2 separate regions of the Homo sapiens genome follow, and region 2 is linked to region 1. A link means that fine-mapping ties the variant in region 1 to the expression of a gene that starts in the linked region. Tissue or cell type: lymphoblastoid cells. Region 1 holds a variant in brackets; the other region holds the start of a gene. All regions are shown on one strand. Distances are between the middles of the regions.

The links. PIP is the estimated chance that this variant, and not a neighbour inherited with it, causes the effect.
Region 2: KALRN starts here. The variant in region 1 is fine-mapped to the expression of KALRN in lymphoblastoid cells (TwinsUK, PIP 0.91).

Annotation. Positions count from the first base shown.
Region 1 is chr3:124,672,671-124,680,776 of GRCh38, forward strand. KALRN (kalirin RhoGEF kinase) reads left to right here. Exons shown (of 60, transcript NM_001388419.1): 49 at 1,694-1,944; 50 at 5,520-5,643; 51 at 6,788-6,847. Among named protein-coding and RNA genes, the nearest start is that of UMPS, 54 kb to the right of the region's middle. The variant T/G (reference allele first, on the strand shown) is at 4,821.
Region 2 is chr3:124,028,711-124,036,816 of GRCh38, forward strand. It overlaps KALRN (kalirin RhoGEF kinase), which reads left to right and starts at 4,659. Exons shown (of 60, transcript NM_001388419.1): 1 at 4,659-5,103. The coding sequence starts at 5,031. RefSeq lists a silencer at 4,175-4,634.

The DNA of each region.
Region 1 (8,106 bases):
TAGACTTAGTCTACACAGCTATTTTGCCCCTACAAGGTAGGTAGAACAGGAGAGAAATGGGAAAAGTGCTAGATTAGGAATCAGGCAAACCTGGTTTCTATTCCCAGTTCTGCAACTCACTTGCTTTAGAACCTTAGCCGAGTTAGTTAACCTCATTAGGCCTCAGTTTTCTCTAGAACTCAGTGGCTCTATGAATAGGAACACTTACATTTTTTATCTACATGTTCCAGTTTTATAGTTTTATTTCTCCTCAAAATTATTAGTTTATATTGGTTATATTAAAAAATTATTAGTGTCCAAGTTCAATCCTGTATTAGAGTAACCACACTGATTTGTTCCGTCACATCACCTGGAAATGATTTTCCACCTTAAAAAACAATCCTGCCTTTGTGAATAAACTGAAGTCACTTTGGCATTTTGTCAAACATATCGGGCCAGATGCGCTGGCTCACGCCTGTAATCCCAGCACTTTGGGAGGCCAAGGCAGGGTGATGGCTTGGGCTTAAGAGCTCAAGACCAGCCTGGGCAACATAGCAAGAACTCATCTCTAATAAAACTTTAAAAAAAAAAAAAAATTAGCCAGGCACGGTAGCATGCACCTGTTGTCCCAGATACTGAGGCAGGAGAATCACTTGAGCCTGGGAAGTCGAGGCTACAGTGAGCTATGACTCTGCCACTGCACTCTAGCCTAGGTGACATAGCAAGACCGTGTCTCAAAAACAAACAAAAAGTATATACTGAAGAATTTGTATGTATATCCTGTATGTATATACATATAGAATATATATGTATATCCTGTATGTATATACATATAGAATATATATGTATATCCTGTATGTATATACATATAGAATATATATGTATATCCTGTATGTATATGCATATAGAATATATATGTATATCCTGTATGTATATGCATATAGAATATATATGTATATCCTGTATGTATATGCATATAGAATATATATGTATATACTGAAGAATTTCTGGCTCTTACCATGCTCTATGAGGCAGCCAGTCCTCCTAGGAAAGTTACAAGTCTGTCTAGAGGCAGCTGCCCTGAAATAGACTCACATGAAAAGGTCATGGGCAGCATCTCTTATATTAATGAGTAGGGGAGGGTACCTGGTGCCTGCAGGAAGTTGGGTAAGGGTAGGTCATGGTCTTGCCTTTGAATTGGGCAGAGATATCATTCTTAGTCCTGTCTCAAAGAGGGTCAGAATATAAAGTAAAGCCAGCGCACTTTCAAAAAGAGAAAAATTTAATATCAAACAATCCGTGTTCTTTCCATTGAAGGATTGTGACCCCTGACATGACACTTGCCCTGACCTCATTCTGCCCAGGTGCTTACATACCCCTATGCCAGTGCCAGGTTCTTCCTTTCACTTGTAAGAGAACGCTGGCAGGAAGGTTGTATGCTGGGAAGGGGCTTCCAGGTCAAAGGCGTGTTTATACCTTTATGTGGGGTGGAGCCATTCACCCTGGATGATAATATTGTTGAAACATTGCTATTAAAAAATATACTTTCAGAGCATGTTTATTAATATCATGTCATTACTCAAGAGAGAATGCTGCCTGCTGCCTACCCTGCTAGTGGGAGATTTGGCCTTGAACCACTGGGTAGGGTGCAGAGCAAGCCCATGTGAACTAGCGTCCTTGTGTTTGTGCCCCTCTCACCCTTATCTCCCAGCAGAACGACCTGGGAGGCTGCAATGGGACCTCGTCCATGGCCGTGATCAAAGATTACTATGCACTGAAGGAGAATGAAATCTGTGTGAGCCAAGGTGAGGTGGTCCAGGTCCTCGCCGTCAACCAGCAGAACATGTGTCTGGTGTACCAGCCTGCCAGCGACCATTCCCCCGCCGCCGAGGGCTGGGTCCCAGGCAGCATCCTGGCGCCCCTCACCAAAGCCACAGCAGCAGAAAGTAGTGACGGGAGCATCAAGTAAGTGCCTCGTTGGCTTCCCCGGGAGAGGAGTATGAGGATTAAAAATATTCAGAAACAAACAAAAGAACACAAAAATGCAAACACATGGTAGGGAATTACTACTGCTTATTCTCAACAGTACCACAGAACCAGTGTTTGAGTGCTGACACCATATGCAACATGGGGCATCCGGGCTGGAGTGATCCAGTTTTTTAGTTGGTGGTGGCGATGATTTTTCTTTCCTTTTGGTTTATAATTTTCTGTTCATTTTTCCCCCTTTCTCCCCCACATTCATTAAGAACCCTACTGAAACCCTAGGTGACAAAAGGTGTGCCTTCTGTTGCCACATTTGACCCACCACAGGACTCACTGGACTGGACTTCTATTTATATTGTATTAAGTAACTGATATATATATATATATATATTTTTGATTGACACCAAAAAATTACCTTGGCACAAATGCCAGACCTGTGAAGGTCAGAGGCCCGCTGCTTTTCCCAGGAGGGAGGGAACTTTTTGGTTGTCTGTGGCAATTCCTCTGTACAGATTGTAACTTTTTAAAAATTTCCCTTCACCCCGTCACTTGAATATATGTTCATAGTAATTTGTAAGATACTTCTTTTCCTTATTTTGGTTGCAAGACCCTTCCGAACACATTCCTGTATAAAGTATTTTGCACTATTTAAAGAAACCCATATGGATGAAGTCAGGATGTGCAATATGATGGCGTCACAGTGCTCATCGTTGTACCTGTAATGTAACTAATCAGTTTAAATGTACTATTTTAAATATGTAAAATAAATTTTCACCATGAGCATGTTTTAATGAAGTTAAAGACTAGTTGACCCTTTTTCCCCTGTTTCACTATTCTTGGACTTTCAAATGTGCAAACAATTCTTCTTCTTTTCCTCCTCTTCTTCTTTTTTTTTTTTTTTTTTTCCCTTTTCTGTATTTTAGGATTTGGGTGAATGCATTGGCATTTTTTTTTCCTACATAAAAAGTATTTTTGTTGCTGAAGTTCTGACCCGGGCCTTCCCTCCTAAATAGCCCCTGTTGATTTTCTCTAACCTCTGAGATGAGGGAAGGTACAGATTTGATGCTGTCCAACTGGTTCCCTGCAACTGGGCAGCCCTGAGGTGCTGATGTCAATTAATGACCAGAGTAGAAGGCAGTGTTTGACTGGCATTCTCCGCTGCTTTCCCCTGCTGCATAGTAATCCATGGAAGACGTGGTGCAGGGGGCTTCCATGAGCTATCTGAGCAGTGGCACCAGCATAACTGCACTGCTTTGGCCCTCTAGGTCAGGGGATAGCAGCTACTGACATCACCCTGGCCTCACTAGGTAACCACAGGCCCAGCCAAAAATCCACAGTGGCCCCTAAGGCACAATAGCCCCCATGCATTTTATCCTAAGTATACTTGTTTTGGGTGCCTTTTAGGTAAGCCTTGGGATAAAGGCCCTCAAAGCATTGAAGTTTTTACTAATCAGGGGACTTGCAGAGCTAACTCTTAATGATTTATCCTCTAAATATCCAGGCACTAAACACTTCTTCCTCCCTACCTTTGGTTCTGTTGGCCACTTATCCATACCTTCCATGGGAGGGAAGGTAAAAGGATGTCAGACCGAGCAAAAGAGAGCAGATTGAAATACAAATGGGTCATTTTGATTTCTTGTCAGCCGCTCTTGCAAAAGGGTTGGGGGTGTGTGTGGAGGGGAGCAGTGGACTGAAAAAGGTTGTCAGCATTTACCAGTGGAGGACACTCAGCACACCCTCCCCAAGGCCTGCCATAACCACAGGGGTCAGAGTTGGTTGTGATGCCTACAGGATAAACGTCACTGAAACCCTGTGTCCACATCAGTCCCTGGGCTTGCAACCAAGAGATGGAAGCTCCCCAAACCATGATGACGAGTTCTTCTGGGAAGAATATGAAACCAAGCCTGCCCTGCCATTTATACTACTCTCAGTCTTCCTTCTGAACATGAAATGTTATTGCTCATATTTCTAGTTTTTCACCAAGCATATTAAATAACCCAGAGAATTTAATAAATGTAGAAACACACCCCCACAAGGACACACACATACACAACGTGCTGCCTGCCCTGGGAGTCCTTTCAGCAGGGATCTCCCTGACTCAAGTTGTTCTCAGAAGGAGCCAGGGACATGGGTTTGGGAGTAAAGTTATCAAAGTCTGAAGTTAACAGGCTGATGCCATCTAAGATTAGCTTCTATGGCTGGTTCTCACTTATACAACGGTTGGAGCAAGGTGCTGGTATGCAGGGGACAGTAGAGAGCCTGACTAGTTAGGAGATACAAGAGTTTTTGAAGGAGCCCACTTTCCCACAAGATTCAAGAATATTACTGTGATTGCTCTTTCCTGCTCAGAAGGTTGAACCTGTGTGTTAGCGGATAAATATTTTTGGAACACCTTCCTCAAAGTACCCTTAAAATCCTGATGTATGTGGAGTGTTCTGGAGGGATGCTCTGTATTTTGCAGCAGCTTCCTTTTCCTAAATCTCCTCTGCCTCTCTCCCATAATGGACGCTCATCTCATGGAGCCCTGTCTGCATAGGCCCACCTTTGACAAGGAGATACTGAGGGGAAGCCACGTCTTACTTATTCCAGACAACAATTAGAACTTCATTCAAGCTCTGTGACCTCACCTGAAACTGATGATGCCTGCTCAGGGTCACTGATGCTGTTTGTGACTTGGCTTTTGGTATCTCTGTCTTTGAGATCTGATATTTATGGAATGTAAGGGCTCTGCTCTGAGCTTGTCTTCATAGGTCTGTGAAGAAGTTGCTCCCAAGACCCTTTGTGGGAAGAAAGAAGTTAGGATGAAAGGCCTATTGAAAAGCCATTGCTGCTCTCACCTCCCTGGGAGCACACATTAG[T/G]TCTTGTCCCAATAGGGAAGCTCTAGGACCTCTACAGGCTGACAAAGCCATATATTCACAAACACTGAGTGATATGGAGAATATAGACCGAGAAACTCTTTGCCCTAAAATATCCAGGTAAATGAGTGGTGCTCAACTGTTTATTAAGCAAATGTCTGCCACAGAAAATCCTGTCTGATCAACATTGTTTGGGAGTGGCCCTGCCCAAATACAAATCATGAGGTAGAACTCTCAATGTCATCCTTTTAGGTCTTTCTGTCTGGTCCTGGGAAAGTGTCAGTAGCATATGCATTCTAGAATATACTTCCCTTGACTTTCCTATTCTACTCTTCGCCCCCTTTCCTCACCCATCCACCGTGCCCTTCTCAAGAGGAATTCCTCAGTCCTGTGAGGCATCATGGGTATGGTATACAAACTCCCTTATTAGAGTTTAGTAACCTAGCATTCATATTTTCTTTAAATGCCGTAGTCAACCTTGCACATCTACCAGGGGAGGTCAGAGTTCATCCTTGCTCACTTCCAGTTGGAGGCGAGGTCAGCCGCCAGCCACCCTTGGAGCTGGTGTGCAGGTTTGGGGCCTCTGAAGCCCGGGCTTGATGGAGCACCTCACCTGCTGACTCACCCAAGGGTGGTGAGCCCGCCCTCCACATCGCTGTCCCTGACCTGCCATTTTGATTGGTGCATTTTTTGGTACAACAGGAAGTCATGTTCATGGCATACTCTACGCATGAGAAAGCGGGCGGAAGTGGAGAACACGGGTAAAAATGAAGCCACAGGGCCTCGTAAACCCAAGGATATTCTGGGCAACAAAGTCTCTGTTAAAGTGAGTAAGGTATTCCGGAGCTGCGTCCCCACCTGTCATCCACTCCCACCCTGCAGCATTCTCACAAGCCAATTTGGGTGGATGGGTTATTTTTTTTTTTTCCCAGTATGGGTACCAGAGGGGAAGTAGTTTAGCAGGATTTTGCATGCAAGATCAATTTATTTTTTATCTTTTATTTCTCCTGGCAACTTCAATTCAAGTAAGTACCTTTTTTTTCTTTTATACCTTTCTCTTTATACTGTGCAGATGTTTTACAGCAAAATTATCTGCAGCATTCTCTTAAAAATGTGAGATGCTTGATTCATATTAAATTTATCAAAGCTGCCATTTGGTACCCTAGGTTTGAGAATACACACAGGGTAAAGCAATTAGGGATGCCTTCCAAACCCCCAACCCTGTGAAGGCTGAGGTTTGGAATTTAAGGGCCACTGTGTCCTTAGTAAAGTTTCATTTCTTTTCCCCAGAGTTCAGACAACATCAACTTCAGGCCATTTTACTTGCATGGACACAGTAGGGGGGCACATTGGTGAAGCCCAAATTATTTCTTTAAATAATCCATCTACTACTTTGAACTCATGAATTCTAAGCTTGGCAGACTCTTATTTACCCCCATCTTGAAACAATGTCATCTGCTTTCTTTAAATTGGAACCTCTGGAAAGATCTGCCAATGGACCAATGGACAATGGAAACTAGACACTGATTATTATAGCACTAATTATGCTATAATGTGTGATCATCTACCTGGAACTTTGTTTCCCTTCCTTAGCAAAGTAAGAACAACTAAAACCCAGTCTAAGAGATTTCTTGGGGAAAAGAAATTGTATACTCTCCTTCACTCTCATCTGGGAAGTCCAGCCTCACAGAAGACAACAGTTTAAATTCGACAACACTCATGCTTCATTTTGCTTCCATTGCTGTTTCCCATGAGATAAGCAGTTGTACACAACCCCCGCCTCCTCTCCCTGAAAAGAGCATGCTGCTGCCCCTGGTGATTCTCACCCCCACTTTAAAAACACCTGGTTTTTTCTCTGCCCAAGATCCCATCGCCCATGCTTCTCTGAAGTTCTCCTCTCTCTCTAGCAAAAGCTACTTGTGTTCTAACTGTGTTCTCTTTCTTCCCCCTTCCTCATGCTGCCAATCAAGGAGACGAACAGTTCCGAGGAATCAGAGTGTGATGATCTTGACCCTAATACTAGCATGGAGGTAGAAGCAGCTATTGTTGTCCTATTTCCTACAATGATTGCCTTTTTTGATGTGTTCTGTAACAGTGACCTTGCTAAAATGACCAGCCATTCAAAGATAAATTGTGATGTTGGGGCATCTCTGGGTATCCCATCCCAGCTATAAAAGAAACAAACAAAAACATAATTCAGTTCAGTGTTGGTAGAAAACTCTACCTAGATTTTTTTAAAAAACAAAAACTTGTTATCTTGAATGCTTGCTAAATATTTTCTCCTTTGGCAGGTTTGACTTTATGTAGAAAATATCCAATTTCATTATTTGAAACTTAGAACACATTTTTTCATGGAAAACAGCACTGTAAAGAGTGGATGAGTCCCAGCTAAATGACAAGGACTCATTTCGTGTTTAGTTTCTCCCGCTTTTGTTTTCCCCTCCTCCGCTTCTTTTTCTTTAGCCCTTTATCCTCTTCATCTTGCTCTTCTACTGGGTTTTATTCCCTGCTCAGTGTTCCAGAAAAATAACGGGTGAAGTATGGCACCTGGTTGCTATGTAGAGCTGATAGCAAATAAGGTGTAATTGTAGCAACTCCAGAGCACACTTCAGCCCAGTGCTGGGCCCGTGAGCAGTGGCTGTGCCCACCGTGTGAAGGAAAAGGAGCCCTGGGGAGGGCCTGTCTCCTGGAGCCACGGCAGAGGCCTCTCCAGAGATGGTGAGATGGAAACACTGCCCAGGGGACATTTCTCGCACCCCAGGCTTACAGGGATGTGGGAGTGGAACCAACGCCTGTATCAACAAGAACATCCATTCCACTTCCAACTCCCAGTCTGTTGGGTTATAGAAACGTGGCTCTTACGTGGCTTGCCACTGAGTAACAACCATGATAAATTTACAAACCCTAGACAATGAGGGCAAACATGGAGCTGACTTTCCTTGCCATTTTTTCATTCAGAGAATGTTTTTCTCCAGATCTGTGCATCCATCTCCAGTAATGGGTACAAGTTTAGAGATTTCTTCTAAGTACAAAATAGACAACATTAAAAAGAAATTTATATCATCCCAAACATTTCACTTAATTAGATAGACTTTTATTCTTATTCTAATTTGACCTAATCCCAGAGAAGTCCAGCACCATGTTGTTTCAGCCACCACAAAACCCAAGAGAGATCATGAGGCCTAAGAGCCGGTAAGTCAGCTGCAGAAGGAGCCAACTGAGTTGAATCAGGCCCGAGGCAATCGGCTGACAATGGGAGTTCTGCCAGGATAGAGTAGTCCCCTGTAGA
Region 2 (8,106 bases), 640 kb before region 1:
TTATTTTTTGAGACATGATCTGACTTTCATGCCACCATGTCCGGCTACTTTTTGTATTTTTTGTAGAGATGGGTTATGCCATGTCGCCCAGGCTGGTTTCAGTCTCCTGGGATCAAGGGATTTGCCCACCTTGGTCTCCCAAAGTGCTAGGATTACGGGCGTAAGCCACCATACTCGGACTTGTATTGCTTTTTAAATATGGTATATTGGTTTCCTAGGGTTGCTGTAACGAAGTAGTGCAAACTGGGTAGCTTAAAATAATAGACATTTATTCTGTCACAGTTCTGAAGAGAAGAAGTCTGAAATCAAGTGTTAGAATGGCCATGCTCCCTCTGAGACTCTGGGGAGAATCTTTCTTTACCTCTTTCTAGCTTCTGGTGGTGGCTGTCAATTCTTGGTATTCTTTGCTGCTGCGTCACTCCAATCTCTGCCTCTGCCATTACATGGCATTTTTCCCTATGTGTCTCTGTCTTCTCTGTCTTCATATGGAATTTTTTTTTCTTCTTATCGGGACACCAGTCATATTGGATTAGGGTCCATCCTAGTGACCACATTCCAAATTTGATTATATCTGCAAACACCTTATTTCCAAATAAGGCCACTTTCACAGCTACCAGGGGTTAGGACTTTAACATACCTTTTTTGAGAATACAATTCAACCCATATCATGTGGTAAGTTACATTGAATAGTTTTCCAAATGTGAAACCAACCTTGTATATGTGGGATAAACCCACTTGGTTATGATGTATTATCCTTTTTATATATTGTAGATTTTATTTGCTAAAATTTTATTAAAAATTTTATTCCTAATAAATATTCCTAAGGAAGTAGTCTACATTTTTTTTCTTATATGGCCTTTGTTTAGTTTTGGCATCAGAGTAATGCTGGCCTCATAGAAGTAGTTGGGAAATATTTCCTCCTTTTCACTTTTCTGGAAGAGTTTTTGTGGAATTGATATTATTTCTTCCTTAAATGTTTCATAAATTTACCAAAAAACCCATGTGAATCTTGAGTTGTTTTGTGTGTGGGTGTGTGTGGGGAAAGCTTTTAAGCTACAAATTTAATTTCTATAGTAGATAAATAGCTATTTAAGTTAGCAATTTCTCCTTGAGTGAACTTTAGTAGTTTGTGTCCATCTTATGAAAGTTGTCAAATTTGTTGGCATAAAGTTGTTCATAATATTCCCTTATTATTATTTTTACATTTATAGAATTTGTAGTGATGTTACCTCTGTCATTCCTGCTAGCAGTAATTTGAGATTTTTCTCTTATTTTCTGATCAGTCTGGGTGGAGGTTTTTTTATTTTATTGATCTTAAAGAACCCACTTTAGTTTCATTGATTTTTTTCTTTTGTTTTCCTGCTATTTTATTGCCTTCTGCTCTGATCTTTTTTATTTCTGTTCTTCCACTTTGATTTCGTTTGCTCTTACAGTAGAATAGGAGCTTATTGATGGGAGATCTTTATTTTCAAAATAGGTATTTAGCACTATAAATGTCTTTCTGCTTCAGCTGCATCCCACAGATTTAGACTGCCTTAGCTGCATCCCACAGATTTTTATGTAATGTGTTTTCATTTTTATTCACTTTGAGATTCTTTCTAATATCCCCCTTTTAATTCTTTTTTTGGTGGGGGTGGCAGGGGACAAAGTCTCACTGTGTCACCCAGGCTAAAGTGCAGTGGCACAATCTTGGCTCACTGCAACCTCTGCTTCCTGGGTTCAAGTGATTCTCATGCCTCAGCCACCAGAGTAGCTGGGATTGCAGGCAAACGCTACCATGTCCGGCTAATTTTTGTATTTTTAGTAGAGATGGGTTTTGCCCTGTTGGTCAGTCTGGTCTTGAACTCCTGGCCTCAGGTGATCCCCTGGCCTCAGCCTCACAAAGTGTTAGAATTATAGGCATGAGCCATGGTGCCCAGCCCATCCTTTGAATTCTTAGTAGCTCATGTGTTATTTAGAAGTGTGTTATTTACTTTCCAAATATTTGGGAGGTTTTTCTAGATTCTTTTTGTTATTGATTTCTAGTTTAATTCTATTGTGGTCAGAGAACATACTCTGATTTTTTTTTAAAAACCAACTTAGGTATAATTTATGTACCTCTTTGCATGATTTTAATCCTTTTAAATTTATTGAGATTTGTTTTATGGCTTAGTGTATGGTTTATCTTGACAAATGCTACCTGTGCATTTGAAAAAATGTGTATCTGCTGTTATGGAGTGGAATATTCTATAAATGTCAGTTAGGTTAGGTTGGTTGATAACATTGTTCAAGTCTTCCATATCTTTACTGATGATCTGTCTCCTTATTCTATTAATTACTGCATTTTACAGATATTAAATTATCTGACTATAATTATAAATTTTTATATTTCTCCTTGCAATCCTATCAGTTTTGCTTCATGTACTTTGAAGCTATCTTATTAGGTGCAAACACTCTTAGGATTGTTACGTCTGCTTGATGAATTGAAATGTTCCTCTTTATCCCTGGTAATATTCTTTGCTTTGAAGTCTTCTTTGATATTAATATAGCCATGAACACTTAACATTTTAATAGAAGTTGCCAAATTTCCTCTCAAAAAAAGTTTGTGTCATTACATAAGGTGTTCCCCCTTTCTTGTCTATATCTTGAGATTTTGATATGACCCTTCCTCTAAACATGTAATGTTTCTTCTGAATTGTGATGAGCTAATGCCTTGCCAGGCCACTGGTTCTTTAGCTGCACAATGGTGGCAATTAATTAATAGCAGCTCTGCCATCACATATGTGTGTGCGGGGGTAGGGGAGCAGACCAGGGGTTAGGCAAAGGATTAAGGGGAAGGAAGATTTTGAAAAGACAAATGAGAAGTATTTTCATTGTCAGAAAAGGCATAGGCAAAGGGGCATCTTAAGCCAGTTCAAGATACTAGGGCCAGATGAATTAGATCTCAGGGCAGTGAACTTGTGATGTCAGAGTCACTACAGAGGTCTGATAGATGTACTCAAGGTTGGAGACAGGTCTGATAGGTGTATCCAAGGTTGGAAACAGGTACTTTTTTTTAATGGGTGAAAAAAAATTAGACTGTTTGTGTCAGTGAAGAACGTGATGCGTACAGGGAGCCAGAAAGTGTTCACTAAAAACTAATTTAATTCATTTTATTTGCTACAAGTTTACACAGTTGGTGGATCTGCATAGGCCCCAGTTGCCTTGGCCCCCAGAGAGAGGTGGAACCAAACAGGTTACTAGAGACAAACAGATCCAGGAGATTCTGTCTGATGGGTTGCAGTCATTAACTTCAGACCAGTACCTGGTTTTCCTATTAGGCGTGTTTTAACACATTAGGTCAGGCCACCACTTCTCCATCTGTCTGGATGAGGCAACAGCGAACAGCGCTCAGCAGACCTTATTAAGTACTCAGGTCTTAAAGACCCTCTGTTTGGTGGGCTCTGTAGTCACTAGAACCATAAACACACTACTGGCTAATTATTGTTTAATTATTGCTTAAAAACTGATGGGCACAATACAATCACCGCATTAATTACCCCATACAGCATCTGTTTTCTTTTTTGCAGCCATCCCCATTCCTCCCCAGCCCCTCTCCCCACTTTAATTGAAATTCAGCTTGCTGTAACACCTCCTTCCTCCTGGCCAACTGGATCTCTCCATTCACATGAGGGAGAACAAAACCGAGAAGGCCCCAGGGATTAGAGAGTTTTGACAGCTGTCCAAGAGGAGCGCGGAGATACGGGCCAAGTACGGAGGCAGGACAGAGACAAACGAGGGACAAGAGAGTGACGGAGGGAGGGAGAGATAGGCAGGGAGACATCACAGGAGCATTAAACTGGACAAAGAGTCACAGAGACAGGCGGAGATGTTTAAAGGGGCGCTGAAAAGGGGAAAAGGACGAGAAAAGATAAAAAGGAGAGAAACTGTGGCGAGCTGGTGAGGAAAATGTGAGAGGCTCAGGAGGGCAGGGAGACAGAAGAGAGCTCGTCAGGAAGGAGGGGAAGAAAGGCCGGCCTCTAGGGACAGGTCAGTCCAGCTTGGAGACCGATCTGAAGATCCAGAGAAGGCGGGCGGGCAGCCTGGTGGTCCCCTCACACACCTGGGAGTGGAGTGGACGGAGGAGGTGGCCGCGGGGCCGGGAGGAGCACCGGCGGCGCGAGCGGAGAAGCTGAGCGCGCAGCGCCCGGGCCGCAGAGCCCCCTGGACAAGCCTGGCGTGTGCCCTGCAGCCCCGGGCTCGCCCGGCGGCCCCGCCCCCTCCCTGGCCCGGGCTTTTCCTGCGGAGCTCAGGAAGCCGGCCTAGCACAGCCTCGAACAATAGCTCGGGACTCGGGCTCCGCTCCCCGGGAGGCCGGCGCGGGGCCGCTGGGACTGGGGGCGTAGGCGCCGCCGGGGGCCCGCAGCGAGCCCTCGGCCCCGGCCGGAGCTTCAATTCAGCTCGGCGCTCCCGGGGTCATTGTTGGCCGGGACTGAGGGAGCGGGAGCCGGGGGAGGAGCTGGGGAGGCGGCTGCTGCGGCGGCGGCGGCGGCGGGAGCCAGAGGGGGAGCTAGAGAGCGAGCGAGCGAAGGAGGGAGGTAGCGAGTGAGCGAGTGAGCGAGGGAGGGAGGAGGTAGGGAGACAGGGAGGGTGGGAGGGAGGAGGAAAAATAAAGAGGAGAGAGCGGAGCAGGGCTGAACAATAGAGACAGGCAGACGGGCGAGCAGGAGAGCCAGCTGCCGCTGCTGGGGGACAGCGGGCGCCCAGGCAGCCCGCACCCCGGCCCCGGGCCCCGGCCCCAGCCAGACAGCAGGCGGCCAGCGCCCTGGGGAAGGGGTACCATGGGGGAGCTGGCGGCAGGCACCCCCAGCCCGCCGCGCGCCTCCGCCTGAGGGAGGCTCAGCGTCCTCTGCCCCAGCCCCGCCGCCCAACGCCCGCCCTCGAAGCTCCGCGGCCGCCAGCTCTGCGGCCGCAGCAGCTGCGCCCCGCGCCCTCCGCCCACCGGGCGCCGAGCAGCCCTCGGCCCCAGGCTTCTTCGGCTCCCGGCTGCCCGCGGACGCCCTCCCACAGTCATGAACCCCCCTGAGGGAGCAGCGGAGGAAGGAGGAGCAGCAGACTCGGACGTGGACGCCTTTTTCCGGACAGGTAAGCCGGGCAGGGCGCGGGGGGCCAGGGCTGAAGGCTACTGCCTCGGACGCGGCGTCTCGGACAAGTTTGGGGAAGGAGGGCTGTTGCTGCCGCGTGCGTGTTGGGGGGCAGTGCCCCCTCGGCGTCGGGGCTGGAGTTGCCGAGATTCTGGTTGTTATGGCAGTGCTGGCTGCGTCTGGGGAGGGCGTGGGGGCTGGGAACTCCGCGCCCCTCCGCCTTCACCCCAGTTGCGGGAGTCTGTGTTGGGGAGGTGGGAGGCGGTCCCCTCGGACCGCCTTCTCCCAGAGCGCGGGGATGGGCGGTGTTGGCTCACTTTGCAGCGCGCCGCTCCGGCTACCGGCGTCCCGGCCCCTCCCTTGGCTCCCCCTCCCCTGTGCCTGTCAGCGGGGCTCCCGGCGGCCGCCCTGGGTCGGCACCCCTCCTCGCCGTCGGGGGCCCGGGGCCCTGATGTGCACAGAGGGGCGGCGGGGACCCGGAGCCGCGCCGGCTGCAGACTGACAGGAGTGGGGCGGAAGACATCGGTCTCGCCTGGTGCGTGTGGGGAGCTGGTCCCTCTGACTTGAGAGGCAGACCCAGCTGGGAGGGCGGTGGGCGCCTCGGACCTCCCCCTTGTCCTCCTCTTCAGTTCTGGGAACGGAGGAGCTATTCATAAGAATTACTCATTCCTGGAAGTGTGAGTTAGCGTCCCTCTCATACACACCCACTAAGTCTCTGCTTGCTGTGAGGTGTAGAGCCCTGAGATGTCTTTCTAGCTCTTTGCGCCCCTGCCATCGTCCAAGTCCCGGGTCCATTGCTCCTCCTGCTCCCTGGCTACACAGTCCCTCCCTAGAACCGGCACTGACCACCCTTATCTTCCACCACCTGTGGCCCTGTTTCTCTGATGGCCAGGGATTCCCCGTCTCCCTGTACCTGTGGCTTCCACCAGCTTCTGTGTGTAGCTCCCCATCTCCCCACATGTCTGAAACAGTTTTGTCTGGAATCTTTGTCCCAAGGAGTCCAGTAAGTTACCGGGGCCCCATGCATCTGCTCTCCCTTCTGGAAAGTTGGATTAGAGGACATGAACTGGTGGGGGTCAGGGGTCAGGTTAGCTCTGGAGGGTCTCTGCACATCCATCTGTTTCCTAACCCTGTTACCTTGCCCTGGAGGTCATCTCTAGGGAAGGGGGTGGGGTGCTTTGCGGGGGAGACTTGTGGCTTTGGAAGTCAAGACTTGATTGGCTCATATGTTCATTCTCTAGTTGATGTGCAGAGGAAAAAACTGGAGGACAGGAGCTGGTGCCAGGGTCTGGGGAAATCAGAGGGAGCCCTGTCATTCTATTCTGCTTCCCAGGTCTAAGCCTTCTTTCCTTTTCTTTCTTCCTCCTTCCTTCCCTCCTTCCTCTTCCGAGACATGGATTCTATTTTCTTTCTTCTCTCTCTCTCTCTCATACACACACAGCCCAGCACCCAAAAGCATGGATTCTAAAGAGGTGGAATCTAGGGAAAAGGTGGTTCTGGGGGCTAAGTGATATTCAGAAATACTCATTATGAGGCAGAGGAGGGGAGATATGGGAATTCATAACTGGGACTAGAAACAAATTGACCAGTCAATCAAAAACCCAGCTGACCCCCCTTGCCTCCCAACTGGGGCAAAAGTCTGCATTTTCTTAGCTCTGAGGGAAAAATCTTGAAGTGTGAGCCTTCCCACCTTCCCTTTCTGGACTCCACTTTTACCTTTTGGTGCCCACTCCTCTTTCCCCTTTCCTATCATCCAAACACTAGGTCCTGTTCATTTTCTGTTCCAGGCACCCGTAGCAGAGCTCAGTTCCTGGAGGCTTGCTTATTTCTGATAATAAATTCACACAGTGTTAATGGCCAATAATAGTCCAATGTGTTACTTTTCCCAGGGCCTTTCAAAACACAAGGTGTGGCACACATTATCTAACCCTGGCTCAAATCACAGAATAAATAGCAGACTGGGGTCAGTCTCCTGTGGGATTCCTATGTTGGGGATATTCTCCCTCCTCCTTGGGCAGCCCAGTGGCTGAGCTAAGTCTGATGTGCACTTAGTATCAGAGAAAGGTTAAGTCATTGGTGCATGAGGCTGGAAATGACTGATGACCTGTAACATGTTGCAAGAGGGGGTAGGTCAAGGACTACATCCACCCTGTGTGGCCCTCTATGCTTGGCTCACTGACTGTCACCACACTTCTGGTCTCTAGCCTAGGCTCTTGCTGGGGATTCTTCTTCTTCTTTTTATTTTTATTTTTTGTTGTTAATTTTTATTTTAGGTTCAGGGGTACATGTATGGGTTATATAGATAAACTGTGTGTCACAGGGGTTTCGTATACAGATTATTTCATCACCTTGGTAATAAGCATAGTACCTGATAGGTATTTTTTCTGATTTTCTCTGTCCTCCCACCTTCCACCCTCAAGTAGGCTCCGGTGTTTGTTATTCCTCTCTTTGTGTCCATGTGTTTTCATTGTTTAACTCTCACTTATAAGTGAGAACATGAAGTATTTGGTTTTTTGTTCCTGCGTTAGTTTGCTTAAGATAACAGCCTCCACCTCCATCCATGTTGCTGCAAAGGGCATGATCTTATTCTTTTTTATGGCTGCATAGTATTCCATGATGTACATGTACCACATTTTCTTTATCTAGTCTGCCATTGATGGGCATTTAGGTTGATTCCATGTCTTTGCTATTGTGAACAGTGCTGCAATGAACATATGCATATGCGTTGGTGGAGATTCTTAAGCTTAGAAAAGCCATGTTTCTAAACCTTCTCCCTTCTGATTTCCCATCTCTGTGGAATATAGCACTATACCTGATAGGCTGGATAGATTATAAATGTATTCTATTGAACAACTGAGAAAGCTTCAAACAAATTTTCAAAGTCCCTAGCACCAGGGTTACCCCTTTCTTTCTGATGGAAAATTTTGTATGCACAAGGACCAAACTGGAAATTGCTTTGTCAAAATTCTGGCATACTGTGCTTCTAATTAGGCATGTTTCAAAT